Linked DNA regions of Homo sapiens: region 2 is linked to region 1. Evidence: fine-mapped expression QTL. A gene starts in region 1. The other region holds a variant in brackets. All regions are shown on one strand. Distances are between the middles of the regions.

The links.
Region 2: its variant is fine-mapped to the expression of DCTD in whole blood (TOPMed, PIP above 0.99).

What each region holds. Positions count from the first base shown.
Region 1 is chr4:182,912,588-182,920,914 of GRCh38, reverse strand. DCTD (dCMP deaminase) reads left to right here and starts at 3,529. Exons shown (of 6, transcript NM_001921.3): 1 at 3,529-3,604; 2 at 5,340-5,454; 3 at 5,857-5,992. The coding sequence starts at 5,347. RefSeq lists an enhancer at 1,565-1,614 and a silencer at 3,188-3,897.
Region 2 is chr4:182,873,037-182,881,363 of GRCh38, reverse strand. It overlaps LOC105377576 (a long non-coding RNA gene), which reads left to right and starts at 1,827. Exons shown (of 3, transcript XR_007058403.1): 1 at 1,827-2,709; 2 at 3,604-3,853; 3 at 6,486-8,327. The variant ATAC/C (reference allele first, on the strand shown) is at 3,823.

The DNA of each region.
Region 1 (8,327 bases):
CAAGCGATCCTCCCACCTTGGCCTGCCACTTTGCTGGGATTACAGGAGTGAGTTCATTACAACAAACCCGGCCCTTCATTGTAATTTTGAAGATGTATAATGACAAAGTAATTGGTGGCTTCAACTCATAACAAAAACGCTGTTTAGGGATCCTGATTTTTTTTCTGATAGGAGTGCTCTGTCATGTCAATTTGCAGTCTGTATGCCCTTCATGGAACACAAACAACTGACCTCATGCTCTAACATACATACGAAAATGTATATACAGGTTGAATATCCCTTCTCCAAAATGCTTAGGACCAGAAGTGTTTCAGGTTTTGGATTTTTTCAGATTTGGGAATATGTGCATATATGTAATGAGGTGTCCTGGGGATGGGACCCAAATCTAAACACAATATATATTTATGTTTAATATACACCTTACATACATAGCCTGGAAGTAGTTTGACAGGATATTTTTCATAATTTTGTGCACCTATCACATGAGGTCAGGTGTGAATTTCCCACTTGTGGGAGTGTCAGCACTCAAAAAGTTTCAGATCTTAGAGCATTTTGGATTTTGAATTTTCAGGTTAGGGATGCTCAACCTGTACTGTATTGATAAGACCACATATTTATTTTTTTCTAGAATTTTCATTGTGACTTTTTTGTGGTTTAGCAGACTTACAGTCATCCCTTACTTAAGATTTAAAAAGAGTTTTCTCTAGTTTGCACTTTAGCATGGAAACATAAACAATTATTCCTTTGAAAACCAGTCAAAGTGGCACTTTGCCTCTAAGTGCAGTTGTTATGCAAAGGAGTTTTTGGTCCTGACTGACAACCACCAAATTAAGAACAACAGGCAGTTTATAACAACATTTACTATGTTCACTGGGCCAGCAATAAGGTTCATTTTTTTCTGTGTTTATTTGCGGAGAGGGGAATGTGAGGGCAAGAACTGGCTTATAGTATCCATCATGGTATTTACAGCACTTAGCACATAGCAGGGAATTAATAAAAAATGAATATTGTTGATTTTACAGAGACTCCAAGAATGGAAGTAGCTTCTCAAGGTTACTCGGGTTGTAAGAAGTGGGAGTAGGGTTCAAAGTCTGGTCTGACTCCAAGGCCGGTGCTCTTTCTCTCATGACAAACTTGATGGACAGATTGGCCACCTTCCTGACTCCTTGCCTCTGTTTCCCCAGTCACAGGTCTCATCCTTACCTTGGCAGGCAGAGGAGGTGGAAGGAGGGGCAGGTAGTATCTCGGTACGGCAGACATTTGCAAATGCCATCAACCCCTCTTCTGAGGCAGCCCTGGAAGAGTCTTACCTTGACTTCTGTTTTTAATCGGGATCCCCTACCTAAGGCACACTGAAATATTAATATATTCCAGGTTATGCTCTAGACTAGACATAGATAGCACGAAACCCCATAAACAAAAGGGCCAAGACAGTAGTCCTTAGGAATGTGCTGATTGGGTTCAACCTGTGTGAGGCCCTCAAGGAAGGCCAATCTAGATAGGGCTGAACACATACCTAACCTCTGTATCTGTAGTAGGTGGAGAAAGATCCTCAATTATAAGCCCAAATACAAGGTATTAGCAAGAGAGATTTAACACCTACAGTCACACTTGGAGTTACAAGGTGTTAATGAGAAAGACATACCAAGGAATATATTTCTCCCCCCTTTGGCCGCGTGGCTTCACTATTGGTGTACAATATTTGAAACCTCAAGTTGTGAAACTCTGAACCAGGAGGGTTTCCTGTATTATGAATGATGTCATCTTTAAGATGAGGGACTTTCAGTGAAATGCGGGAACATTCAGGGTAATGTGTTTTCAGCAAGCAGGAGCTTGAATTTATGGCAGAGGGGAGTGTGTGAGTTGACCAAAATGGAGAGTGATGAGAAGTAACTAAATTATGTATGACAGTCTTTACCGAGCAGAGGAAGGAAGAAAGCTTAATGATGTTGTGGTTGAAGGAGCAGCAGCAATTGGTGATGTATGGGTTGTAGGTTGGTAAGAAGAGAAATGGATCTATGAAGACCCAAAGACTGTAGATGAGTGTGACAAAGACCAAGCGGTGGATTTGGGAGGAGGAGGGAAACCAGGGGCTCGGGATATATGACACATTTTAGCGGCAACAAGACAGCCATGTAAAGTCAACTTGAAATTAAAAATCATCATCTTAATCTATGTGGCTCTTTCAAGCCTGAGTCTTATCAAGGCAAAAAAAAAAAAAAAAAAATCTATAGTTAACGATGAAGTATTTCTCCCTTTTGCTTTCCCGGCATCCACCAAGAGCAGTACATAATTTAATTATTGAATCTACAAGCTGGACCATGAGATGAAGAATGATGTGTCTGCTGTAGTGAGAAATTAGATAGAACCAACTGTTTACTCTCATCATTCTTCCTCCGTTAGGCTAAATTAATATAGTTAACAAGCTTTTGTTTGGAATAGCAGTTCAAATCTGGGATGTGCAGATCAGAACTGGCGATTATTACAGTAGCTGTTATTTATGGAGTGCTGACAGTCCCCTCAAGTCCCATGAATGAAACAGAAAGGGGTTCTTCTGTCATTCTCTGTGCTAGAACCACTGTAAGGGGCTAGACGTCTGCACAGGGTAACGAAGTTCATGAAAACCAGATTAAGTTGCTTGGGGCATACGACTCCAGAAATGTCACTGATGGTCTTTCCTATTGCCCTGTTTTTCTCATCTTTGAAACAACTGCAACAAAATGTGCACTATATAAGTGGGCGAGCATTACCAGGAGGTAACATGCAGGTGGGGTGCCTGTGCGGTGATACGGGTCGAGCAGGGCGCGGCAGGCTTTAGCAAACACCTCAGGCCCTTCCGCACAATTTGAGCAGAAACTGAAAGCCTGTCAGGCGCAGCCAAATGCAAATCTAGCTTCGAGGCACTGAGCCTCGAGGCACAGCGCCCCCGCCGGACCCAGTTCCCTGCCCCATCCAGTGTGTGAAACTGTGACCCAGCCACCGGCCAAGGGTCCCCACGGGGACGCTGCGACACAGCGGGCTCACTCCAGAGACCCAAACCAGGTCTCCCCACCTCCCGCCCCGCCAGTTTCACGGCACTAGATTCTTGGGGTCGTCTTTTAATCACAATCTCCATAGCCGTGTCTCTAAGCAGTTGATGGAACACGGATGGTGGGGAAAACCTCACCACCGCCACCACCACCAAACCAAGCAGCCCCCGACGGTCGTGCAGTCAGGCCCGGGAGCGCCCAACTCGCGGCCACCCAGCGCCACGCGTGACCCGGGCAGCGGGGCGACCTCGGGGCGGTCTGGCACCCGGGAAGTAGTTTGTGCTCGGGCTCTGAACACCGCCGGCCGGACCGCGGGCTGCGTCACGGGGACCGGGAGGCGTACGGCGACGCGGAGCAGCGCCTTTGCGGCGTGCGACCCGCCCCCGCCGTCCCTCCCTCCCTCCCCTCAGGGCTTCGGGCCCCCGGGGCCAGCCGCCGTCCTGCGAACGCGCGGCGCCCGGGCCGCTGCCCCCTTCCGGCCCCGCGGCGGCCCCGCCTCCTCCCCCGACTTCCTTCCCTGAGCACGGCGGCGGCGGGGACGAGCACCGGCCTGCGCGCGGAGCCGGCACCGGATGGTGGGCGGGGGCCAGCCGTGCGGGTACGCGGCCCGCGCGCCCCTAGCCACCGCCGCGTGGCACCGTCCCGAGCGCGTGGCGCGGGGCGCTGGCTGCCGGGCGGGGGCCTGGGGCCGCGGACGCTGGGGGCGCCTCGGCCGCGCTCAGCCTTTAGATCGGAGAATGCGGGCGGGGTGGGGGCGCTCGGGGTCCCCGCAGTCACTCCAGGGTCGATTTCTCGGCGGGCGCCGCGGCCTGTGCGAGGCCGGGCCCCTTGGAGTGCCCCGGGAGGTGGTGCTGGGCGTCTGAACACCACATCCCTTCCTGCGCCCGTGTGTGGGTTGGGAATGCCGGGTGTAGGCCCTGGATCAGAGCTGACGGGGTTGCGAGCGGCGTGGGGTGTGCCTGGGACGGTGACCGGATGTGTCTTCCTGAATCGTTGTATTCGAGCTCCAGTTCTCTCTGTTTCTACAGCTGGGCCTCAGTCCTCACAGGGCTCTAGTGGGCGTTCAGCCACACCAGGAGAAGGCGCCCAGGGGATTAACAGGACCCTTCCCTCTCCTGCTCTTCCCTCGCCCCCCATGGCTCCCCCTCCCTCCTATTTAGTAGGTACTTCTCCAGCACCCCACAGCGATGATGGATGCTGGCCCTAAAGCCAGGTGGGAAACCAGGCTGATTCAGCACCTGTCTTTTCCTGTTAGGGGGGTTGCCAGGCCTCTCAGATGTGGGGCAGCGTAATCAGTGGGTGACCGTGGTTCCCAGCACCCACTCTCCACTGCATCCTTGTCTTAGGCACTGCCGCCCTGCACTGTAGCAGATGCCTAAATAAAGTGTGGAGCCTGAAGCAGAAGTTTTGGGAGATGCTTGCCTTCCTTTAGACCACATTCCTCGCCTTTCTCAAGATTTCTCCGTGGTACCCACCCCGTTTTTGTGTTGTCTTCCTTCCTTGCCCTTGTTTCATTCCTTTTGAAAGCGACCACTCCCCTGAAGTCCTAGGACCCCCTTCGTGGGCTCTCCCTGCCGTAGACAGTCTCTGCTTGCCCCTGGTAAACTACGTTCCAAAAACCTTGCTTTAGGAGTAGCACTTGACGTTTTTCATAGTTTCTTCTCATGTAATTCATTACTCGGAGTTGATAACTTCTGTCCCATCTGGATTATTGAGGAGAAAGGGAAGGGAAAAATTATCTGGTTAATATCAGAGTTGGGAAGGCTTCAGATGTTTTCTTTGAATCCGTCTGGCATGGATGATAATCCTGTGTGGTTTAGGTTAAGTTACCTAAGTTCTCTGAGTCTGTGTAAGATGGGATGGCACTGTCTACCTTAGCTAGGAGTAAGGCTTGAGTGACATGATGTGTATAAACTTTAACAATGTCTGGAATCTATAGATGATCAATAAATATTTCTTTTTTCCACCCTCCTCCTGTGCTGACTCCGCTTTGTAAGGGAGACAGGTAAAGGACACAACAATTTGTAGGCTGGCATAAAAAATCCTATGAGAAAGCAGTAAATAGATGAAATATTTGGGAACGTGAAGCTATAGGTTTCAAATTCAAACTTCTGAAATAGGAAATTTCTTAAGTTTTTACTTAAGACCAGAGACTGTTTAGGGCCCATGTGCTGTGATTTCTGATTGATAAATGTAGCTGAAGTTGCCCATGTTTAGAGATTTAAAGGTTCAGTGTGGTTGGGTTGAACTGGAAAACAGACTTACTAAAATGCTTCTCTCAACTTCTGTTTTGTCATGTTTTTCTTCTAGACCCAACATGAGTGAAGTTTCCTGCAAGAAACGGGACGACTATTTGGAATGGCCAGAGTATTTTATGGCTGTGGCCTTCTTATCAGCACAGAGAAGCAAAGATCCAAATTCCCAGGTAAATGAATTTCACGGGAGAATGCTTAGATACTCACAGGCAAAGAGATTACTGCACATGAGCAGAAAGGGGAGACTCAGTGGACGCCTGTCAACTTAAAAGTGCAGGGTCGGTCTGCCTTTTGTGCTGCGTTTCTACAAGCTTAGTTCTTCCTGTGAGACAGAAAATTGTCACATGCCATTGTTAACTGCCTCTTGTGCCCCTTCTGGGACTGGGGGTGCACTTTCCTTGGCTTGTGGGTGCTGCCACAAAAAACCAGGCAAGGAGACCGACAGCTCTCAGCACCTGCAGCAGCTATGCGTCTGTTTTGAGTTCTGCAGTCCCCCTGGTTTTATTCCCTGCTTCCACAGCGGCAGACCAGCCAGTTGCAGGCACCAAGCCTTTGGGCATGTTTCCTTCTAGGTCGGCGCCTGCATCGTGAATTCAGAAAACAAGATTGTCGGGATTGGGTACAATGGGATGCCAAATGGGTGCAGTGATGACGTGTTGCCTTGGAGAAGGACAGCAGAGAATAAGCTGGACACCAAATACCCGTACGGTAGGGCAAGTTTTATGTCCCATTCTGCTTAGTGACATAGCCTGGTGAGTGCCTAATTAAGAAAGTTGGTCAGAAGGCATCATCTCCCTTTTGTCATCAACAACTGGAAAGAAAAGTATCCTACTGAACTACCCCAATTTCCTGGCCTTGTCTCTTAAGTTCCAAAGAGAGCCACGGAGAGAAGCATGGTAGTGGCCACACAGGCTGGCCCTGAGATCCAGGGCTCTGCTGCCTGTGCTGAGCCTGGCAGGCTTCACTGGCAACCTGCTGGCCTGCACCACACCAGTGCACTGATAGTCGGCGTCTCTGCAGAGGGTCACAGCCCCTTGCAGAGATAGCTGAGGGATGTGCATGGTGTCTCTGTGGGTTCCTTTTTTTACTACTTGGAAGCAGGGTCGGCTAACCAGGGGCTGGCTCGGGCTTTGGTCTGATGAGAAGCAGGCTTCATTCAGCCCATGTGCCTGATGAGAACATCTGGCTCAAGCTCATTGCTGGCAAGCAGGAATCAAACTGTGAACTAGACATCAGGAGATGGAGGATCCAGTTGCTTCCTCCAGTTACAGGGGATGCTGCAATTTCACAGTAGGCTGTGGTCAGACCAAAAGCCAGAAGTGAGGCTGGGCACGATGGCTCACGCCTGTAATCCCAACACTTTGGGAGGTGGAGACGGGCAGATCACCTGAGGTCAGGAGTTCGAGACCAGCCTAGCCAACATGGTGAAACCCCATCTCTACTAAAAATACAAAAATTAGCTGTGCGTGGTGGCAGGTGCCTGTAATCTCAGCTACTCGGGAGGCTGAGGAAGGAGAATCGCTTGAACTCAGGAGGTGGAGGTTGTAGTGAGCCAAGACTGCGCCACTGCACTCCAGCCTGGGTGACAGAGCAAGACTCTGTCTCAAAAAACAAAACAAAAACAAACAAACAAAAAACAAAACAAAAACAAAGAAAAGAAAAAGCTAGAAGTGTAGAACTGTAAACCTTTGGCTTGACTGTCTCTGGATTTTCCCCTTGAAATTAGGGAAGGCTGCTTCTTAGAGTTTGTTGCCTGTCTAAGCCCCAGGGAAAATTCCTTCAGAGATTGCCTGGGAGGGTCCAGCCATAGCTTTACTTTTCCTTGCATTCCTTGGAGAATATGCAAGCAATGCTGGAAAAGAGGCAAATCATGCTGGGTATGCAGGTTGCTGATTTTTGTAAGGTTAGGCCCTGTATTTTATGTCTGAGAATGAACAGACTGGCGCTGTTGGAAGTGAAGGGAGAGTAAGGCCATCCAAATGGGAAAGATTGTGTCTTCAGGCCAAGGCGTGATGTACGACCTTTCTTCTTTGTTGACTCTCCTGGTAGGTTTTCTTCTGGGTTTTTCTCATGAAGAATCCAAGTCAACATTTAGTCTAATTTATATATTTTTACTAATGTTCCTGGACCTCAATCATGTTAAATAAGCCCCATAAATTTCTTTCTAAATTGCCTAGGGGCAACTTCTCCATGTTTGAAAGAAAAAGTTAAGAGGTACCTGGAGAGAGAGGAGGAACTGAGGACTGCAAAGCAGTCTGGGTTTCCAGGATGTGAAAAGTAGTTTAGGGATGAAGGGGACCGAATCCTCAGATCCTTGATTTAACCTCACCCTCCCTCGTCGGAGTGGGAAGAGAGGATGGAGTTGGGGGAGGGTAAGACTGTCTTCTCAGCACAGCTTCAGAGCCGGTGGTAGTGGATGACTAATTAGAAAAATGCGCGGACTCAGAAACTGTCACCCTGATTTTGATTCTATAAGCTTTTGATGGTAAGAAAGAAGGGAAGTGATTAGTTGTTTTTAAGTCCATGCAAAGATAATTTTTCACAGTGCGGTTCAAAGTCCCCTATAAAAATGGTGAAAGTGGAGGGTCGATATGTTAAAGGTCTGCATTGAACTGTGTGACGGCCACAGTCAGTATGTCACCGAGTCTGGGCAGTGAAATATTGGCCCTGGGGCTGGACTTTGATATGGAGGAATTCTGGGGGGATGGCGGTCCGTCATACTCAAGCTGGTGCAAAAGATACCCGTGGTTGGACAGTGCGGAGGGGTCCTGGGTGAGCACTGAGTGGGCCTCCCAATGGGGCCTGTGCCTTCTTCAGTCACCCAGAGCCCCCAGCAGATCTTTAAGCAGTGACCTGGAAGCCAAGGGCCATGCAGTACATTTGCAGCACCTGCCCCACACCCCAGACTTCCCAGCTCTCCTGACTTCCCGTGTAGCTGATTTTGTTGGTTATGAGACACTGCCTTTTGTCCAAATTGAGGAGAGTACCTTTCAGAGCCCCTTTCTAGAAGGAATTTTTTTAAAAACCTGCATAGGTATTTGTC
Region 2 (8,327 bases), 40 kb after region 1:
GTCTTTAAAGGGGTGGGAGCAGGGAGGAGAGGGTTCTGAAAGGTTCTTACGAGAATCACAGGAAAAAGAGGTGAGGAGCAGCGTGGCCACACATGCCTCCCCCCCCCACCCACGAAAAAGTGGGGCTCTTTACCAAACAGCAGCAGCAGATTGATGAGAAGCGTCATGGCCGAGCATCTCTGAGTCACGGTGAGCACGCACAGAAGAGACCAAGGTGGAGTGTGCCCCTCCTGCCCCAAAGCACCTTTGGCTAAACATTGTCTGTTGGGTCGTGAGTAGGGAGGAGCAAAGTGAACAGTCACTAAATCCATAGCAGGGCTAAGTCCAAGCAGCACATGCTGAGGCCTGGGCGGGGGCTCCAGGCTTGCTGGGTTTGCAGCCCCAGCTGCGGGTCTCAAAGCCAGCACAGATCACAAGAGCAAGGCCAGCAGCTCCTCCAGGGAAGAGCAAAACGCTGCCTTGGAAACACATTTTAATTGATGAAAGGATTCTTTGTTTTAGCCGCTGATGGCAGTGCAAGTGAACTTCAGGGCACTCGAGGTGCTTTGGCCCAATTAGGAAGTCAGCCGGAGCCTCCCGTCACAGGCAGCCATGGTACCTGCTGTCTGATGTTTTGCCAACTTGCTTTAGTGCAATCACCCCGCTGCACCGGGATGTTTCAATTTAGACTTCTGCTACGTCAGGACTCTGAAGACGCTCATTGTCTGGGAGTGGGCTTCCTGCCTGTTACCTCTTTCCTCCTGCCTCTCCTCTCTTGGACACAGCTGTGACATTGCTCACTGGCCAAGTGAGTTGTTACTGTCCCTCGGCTGCGGGTTGGCAGGTTTCCACTCTCGGAGGAGCAGCAGCAGGGTTTGCAGGCGAAGATCCTGGACTCTGTCAATGCAAGCCCGGCACCTTGGCATTGGGAGTGCTGGAGTTCTTTGTGAGTCATCTGTGTGGCCGGCATGGCACAGTCGTTGCTGGAGAATATTAGAGTTTAGAATCGTATCTCCAGCATTGCTTTGTAGATAAGGACATGCAGTTAGGACTTAGGCAGGCTTGCACAGCTCTAGAGGTAGAACGGGGCTGAGAACTCAGGTTCCCCAGCTTGGAGGCTGGTGCCCATACCAAGACACTGGGCCAAGTGACATGGGGTCTTGGGACAGCTCATGAAGCTGGGTGCTAAGGCAGGCAAATGGGAGCCGTAGTCTGTGGCCCTCCACCACAGCTGGCTTTCCAGCCTCTCTGCTCCTGCCTTCCGATTCCTGATGCCCTAGCCTTGCCGGCCTGTTTTCCTTCTCGAGCGTTCCTTTCCAGATCGGCAGCTGCACTTGCTATTTCTTCTTCCCAGGTGAGAATTCTCTCCGCCAGCTCTTCCCACAGTTTCCTCCTTCCTATTTCCAGCACTTCCACTCAGAGTCCGCTCCTCAGAGGGGCCCACCCTGGCCCACCCTGTCTACCAGCACCCCCAAGACCCCCACCTCCCAGTAACCATCAGGTCACCCAGTTTCTTTCTTTACATAACTCTTTTGTCTATTTGTCTTACTGTTTTCTGTTTGTGTCCCCCCAAAACAGCAGGGCCAAGCCTGCTTTATTCCTCTTGACTCTCTAGTGCCTAGAACAGTGCCTGGCCCAGGGGTTTTGGGTTTTTTTGTTAGTTTGTTTGTTTTCTGAGATGGAGTCTCACTCTGTCACCCAGGCTGGAGTGCAGTGGTGCGATCTCAGCTCACTGCAACCTCCGCCCCCCGGGTTCAAGCAATTCTCCTGCCTCAGCCTCCCAAGTAGCTGGGACTACAGGTGCGTGCCACTACACCCAGCTAATTTTTGTATTTTTAGTAGAGACGGGGTTTCACCATGTTGGCCAGGCTGGTCTCGAACTCCTGACCTCGTGATCTGCCTGCCTTGGGCTCCTGAGTGTTTTCAGATAAGTAGATATTAAGTGACTGACTGAGTAAAGGGATACACTGGATCTATGGAAGTCTTGATCCAAAAAGCTCTCCATTGTCCAGTCAGACTCCCTTTTCCATCTCCAGGGCAGACCAGGGCATGGTATAAACTGACTCCACTCCTTGTGTGTAATACAGTGTCTTCCTAGAGAGGGCGTCTGTCATTCCACCCCCAGGGACTGCTTGGCATCTGTGTGGCAGGGGCCATGCTGTTCCCCGCTGGGAGCACCATCCTACAGTAATCTCTGTGCAGGATGCTATTATAAGAAAGACTTGGGACTTTGTCCCCACTCTGCAACCTCACACCCCAAACTGGGAAGGTGCTGAGAAACCGAAGATTGGCTCGGACAAGTCCAGCTTGGCCAGTAGATGACTCTATTGAGGGCCCTCCTGGGTGGCGGCAGGACAGCTCTAGAGGTTCGCACTGCTGCCATCACTAAGCAAAGTCTCTGGTTCCTGGCCTGCTGTGTGTGATGGGACTGCCTTCCTGGGTAGGTTCCCAGATACTCCCAGGGACACACGCTCCTCGCTGGGCCCCCCTGGCCTTGGCTCCTTGCCTGGCCTTCAGGGTTCAGGCAGTGGACATCCACCCCACGTGACATGGTGGGACACCTGTCACACCACCGATGCCCCTGCAGATGGGCCACGCAACAGCCCTCGGGCCTTCCTGTCTCAGAGCAGGGCTGATCACAGTCAGGCCCACTGCAGTGGAGAAAGACTGTGCAGAGCTAGACGCTGGACTCGGATCCTCTCTAGCGTGGGACAGGCACTGGGCACCCAGGTCAGCTGCAGTTCCTGAGAGAGGGCAGCCCCAGAGTCAGAATCAAGGTGTCAATAATAGGAGAAACGATGGTGGGGAGGAGACCAAGGCATTAATATAGGAACTCTGTATACTTTCCAGTCAATTTTTCCATAAAACTAAAACTGCTCTAAAAAAGGAGTCTGTTAATTTTTTAAAATCTCAAAAAGAATGTGGCTGGTGCCACAATGAACAATTTGAGTGAGAAGCTACTCAACGAGGTCAGAGGCATCAGAGAGGAAGAACACAGCAGCCTGTTTTCTTTGCTGCTCTTTACCGTTAGAAAGAACACTTTTACAACAGACTCTGTTTGAGGACAAACGCTCCACATTTTTGCCCGCTGGCAGCAGTCATAAATTATGAGATTTCTGAGGGGCACAAAACTGCAGCGGTCTAAACCAGGCAACAAAAATCAGCCAAGTCCTTATCAGGATCCCCTACAAATTCTATTGACTTTTTTGGATCTGTTTGTCCCTAGGTGTGAACTAGGGAAAAGTCAGGCGAGTCTGCCTTGCTAGTATATTTAAAAGAGGATCTTGGAGAATTTGAAAGAAAATGTGGAAGAAGAAATGACAGTGCTTGGTGAAAGTCAGCAGAAGGGCTTGATAATGGAACAGACTAAGGGTGGTGGATAGTTTTAAGGTTGAGAGAGAAATGGAATTAAAAAAAAGGGAGATATTCCTGGGGGCTTGAAGCAAGAAGCAGCAGCCGAGAGCAGCGCTGATCAGGATGTGAAGGGAGCTTGGTGCGGAGGGCAGTGCTTCCTATGAGAAAAAGTCCAGTGGTCAATCTTTTGGGAAGGAGCTGGTGGGATGAGGGGGCAGCTGGACTGACCTGAGTGCTGTTGTACTGTCTGACCATCTCCTTTGTAAACAGACGCTCCACACTCATGCTCAGAGCAGCATTATTCACAGCAGCCAGGAGGGGGACGTCGCCCAGGTGTTCCTCGGTGGATGAATGGATAAAGAAAATGTAAACACACAGTGGAATCTTACTCAGCCTTGAAAAGGAAGGAAAGTCCATCCAACACATGCTACTGCATGGACGAACTTTGGACAGTGAGCTAAGTGAAAGGAGACAGTCACAAAAGGACAA[ATAC/C]CAGATGATCCCACCTGCGCGAGATGATGTGAGTGTCAAATACATAGAGACAGAAAGTAGGATGGTGGGTGCGGGGCCTGGGAGAGGGGAAAATGGGAGTTGTTTAACAGATACAGACTTTCAGTTTTGTGAGATGAAAAGTTCCGGAGGTTGATTGCAAAGCAGTGTGCATATAGTTAACACTGCTTAACTGTACACTTAGAAATGGTTAAGATGGTAAATTTTATGTTATGTGTTTTTTTTGTTTTGTTTTGTTTTGTTTTTTTGAGATGGAATCTCTCTCTGTCGCCCAGGCTGGAGTGCAATGGCACGATCTCAGCTCACTGCAGCCTCCACCTCCTAGGTTCAAGCCATTCTCCTGCCTCAGCCTCCTGAGTAGCTGGGACTACAGCCTCACGCCACATGTCCGGCTAATTGTATTTTTAGTAGAGACAGGGTTTCATCATGTTGGCCAGGCTGGTCTGGAAATCCTGACCTCAAGTGATCCACCCGCCTCGGCCTCTCAAAGTGCTGGGATTGCAGACGTGAGCCACCGTGCCTGGCCTTATTATGTGTGTGGTTGTTTTTGTTTTGTTTTGTTTTTTTGTTTTCTTACCACACACACACACATACAAAACAGCTGCCCTGGCCCCTAGAGTAGTGAATTTTCACCAGCAGCCACCTAGGGGGTGAATTTTCTGATCATTTTGGGCTCAGTTCTGAAGTTCTGACTTTGAGCCCCACCTCACTCTGAATCTACAATCATTCTCTCTCCTGTCATCCTGTTGCAGTCTGCTCAGCTGCCCATAACTAAATACAAGGGACTGGGCGGCTTAAACAATAAGCCTTTACTTCTCACTGTTCTGGAGGCTGGGAAGTCTGAGATCAGGTGCTGGCATGGCCGGGTTCTGGTGAGGGCTCTCTTCCTGGCTTGTGGACGGCCGCCTTCTCACTGTGGGCTCACCTGGCAGGGAGTGGGGCCGGGAGCAACGGCTCTGGTCTCTTAGAAAGCTACTAATCCCATCGTAAGGGCGATACCCTCATGACTGCATCCAAACCTAATTACCTATAAAGGCCCTACCTCCAAAAACCCTCACATGGAGGGTTAAAGTTTTGACATATGAATTTGGGAGAGGGACACAGCTCAGTCCCTAGCACACCTTTCCTCCAACCCCAGAATTCAAAGGAGCAGCACACATTCCTTCAGCTCCGTCCATTGTAGCCTCCATTCCTCCTACGCTGTCTGAGCATCCTGGACTGTCTTGGGAACACCTGTCCTGTTTCCACCAGCTCCCTGGGATCTGCGGTGCAGACACCCCCTGAGAATGCCCACTCGGCTCCCCTGGGTCTTTAACCCAGGGACCGGCCAGATGTCTTGCTCACATGTCATAAATATGATTGCAATGTGGCTGTGCGTGGAACCCTGGCCCACTCTGGACCCTGAGCTCCAGAGACTCCGAGGCAGAGCTGCATTTCTATTATCACTTAGTAATTGGAGTTTTGCAGGCTTGGGATTACTGCTAATGGAAAGCAAATGGGCCAAGAATCAAGAAATAAGCACTTGAACAGCCAGCAGCACTCGGTAAAGCAAAGAGGCTATTATGCCACTTTATGTGGATAGAGATCATCATTTGCAGAAAGATTTGCAAAAATCTTTCCAGCCCATGGAAACAATGCCCACCAGGCCTTCTGGTGGCCCTGCCCTCCCTGCCTGGTGCAGCTAAGTGGCCGCCCAGGTAGGGAGCCTCACCTGCAGCACAAATTACCACCCGAAGCCAGCCTCTCCCGCTTGGCAGGAGCAAGGTTTGATCTTGCCTTCGCTGCCTGCTTTCTCGCTGGTACACAGAGCTCAGAGAAGCTCTTGGAACCAAAAGCCCTCCCACACACCCTGCCTCAGACTTCCTCGGCCTTCTCACCAGCCCCAGCCCAGAGAACAGGCGGTGATAGGGCTGCCATGAGCTGCTGTGACGGAAAGCTCGGAACAGTGGCTCTTGACTCAAGGAGAGAGAAGTGGCTGTAAAGAGTGACGTTTCCCGGGGTTTGCTGACCCCTGGTCTCCGGGTTAGTCTTGCCCTTTCTCCTCTGTGGGGTTGTGTCACCATCATACATTTACATGAGGGTCCTTTTCTCCATAGATCACGCCACCCCCTTCCCAGTGGCTAAAAGGCAATTTAATATGCAGAAGCTCTGCTAGAACAGCATTAGGTTATGACATGAGGAAATGGAAAAAAAACATCTAAGCCCAAACTCTGCCCTTCAGCCGTCCTCCTGAGACAGCGTGCTGCTGTCAGCCAAGGACAGAGTGGGCACGCTGGGGTTCTTGGGCTCAGCAAACAACAGGAAAACTGAGGCAACTTCAGCTGCTTACAAGAGAGAGACACAAGATTCACATGAGTTCCTAAGTTCAAGTTGGCTGAGGGGCTCAAGGGACTCACCGCGTCCCTCCCTCACTCCGGCAGATGCTGGGACGCTTCCAGACAGCCCCGGACATAGGGGGAGAGGGAGAGGCATGGAAACCCTCTTACCTTAGCCCCTCAGAAAGGTGCCTCCACTCATTGGTGACTCCCTCACTTAGCCATTAAATGTCACTACAGCCCGTTCGCACAGGGGAGAGAATCTACATCTAGCAGTAAAAAAAGGTGATGAAATGAAAGAAGTTGTGAAATGACATTTTTTTCCAGCAGGTTTGTCATATCTCCTGCATGGAGGAAAATTGCTTTCTGTAAATCTTGGTCCAACAGAACAAAACACCTATTTCTTTCCAGTTGGGAGGACAGCCATTCTCATCGGTATAATGAACGTATTGTAAGCTGTGACTTTTACAAAGTCTGAGGGAAACCAATCTGCAATCTTGACAGATACGATCTTTCCAGATGCACTGTTCGTTTACGGCGGCAAGAGAGCTCAATTAATTTCTGAGGGAGGACGGCAGGATGCGACCCCTTGTGCGTGGCCTAGGAGGAACTGTCCCTGTGTGAATTTATGTTCTGGTAATTTAAAAAGATTTATATTAAGCTTTTCTTTCATTTTGAGAGTAGATTAAAATTCTAATGGAAACCATTTGTATGCATTTGTTGAATTGAAGAGTATTTATGGCTGTGTAAAAAAAATGCTGCAAAATTCTGCCGATAATAAAGTCAGTGAAGCAAGAATAAGTGTAAAAACAGGAAGGAAATACGCGATAGAAACCATACTGTATTATACAAGTATAATGAGGGAGGCAAGCCGAGCAGAACGGGGCAGGGATTAGGCCCCCGGATGGGATAGTTTTTCTTATTTAGTGTAAGGCTTTTGTAGCCCTTTTATGACTTAAAACAAAATTTAAATTTTGAAACAGGCCAGGTCAGTCTGCACAGACCCCATGGCCACATCACTGTGTCACATCATTCTTGAACTCCTGCCGGTGTCTAGGACAAACAGGCAGGAAAGAAAATCCAAGCGGCGTCTCAGAGAAAAGATGCTGATGGCAGGAAAAGAAGACCCATGAAACAGGAGGCGGGGGTCAGCGAGCAAGGTGAAAATCAGAGCCCCGGAGTGCAGTGCAGGTGGAAGAGAGGTAGCAAAACCAGGGAAGTCGCCGTGCTCGGGACAGTCCAGTGTGTCCCTGGCATCCCCAGTCATTGCCGTGGCCACCTGATCAGAACCTGTACAGAAGCTGCCCCATCTCCTCCACGGTGAGGGCCAAGTTGCATGTGCCACAGCCCTGTCGGTGACCTTTCTGCGGGCTGGGGAAGCAGAGACAACGGCCTGACAATCTGCAGGCACAGCCATCCAAGGGGACAGGGTCCATGCAACAGCCACCAGAGAAAGCTCCTCACTGCCACCTTTGCAGAGGGAGAAAAGCAGAAAGCATCGTGGAGGCCCTTTATCATGTTGGAAGGCCAGAGACATTTGGCATTCCGTCAAGGTCCATCTTAGAGTTGAGAGAGAGTTTCACCAGGAAACTCACATTCTCTCAGAACTAGCAGCCGTGATCGCATGTCGAAGTCAGGCAACGCCAAGCGTGATGGTTAACAGCGCTAAGACAGGAGAAAATGGAAATTCCCTGAGAGTCCACTGCTCTGCTCCTGCGGCGGTGCTTTTCCCCCTCGTTGTAAGCATGCTCTTTACCAGAGCTGCACGGATGTCATAAACTGCCTCACGATGCACTAGAGCAGAATCGTGCGTTAGCAAATTTCACAGATGCAAAGTGGGATTTCTGTCAATGGAAGCCTGCATGGAAAATACGGAACAGCTTAAGAAAGTACTGTCTTCTCTCAAAATTCCACAGGAGCCTGAAATGCAGGGGTTCCGGCCTAGGCGTTTTTTGAGGCAAATAACGTCGCCACACGGCCGAGATACAGGCCCCTTTTTGCCCCATGAGACTTACTGGCCTCAGAGTCCGGCCGCTTCTGTTTTGTTTCTTCATGTATCCTTGGCTTCTAGCGCAGTTCCTGGTACACAGCAGGCGCTCAATACATATTTGCTGAGCTAAGCAAATATGTCCTAGGCCCTGTGGAAGATACGACATGAGGAAGACCAGG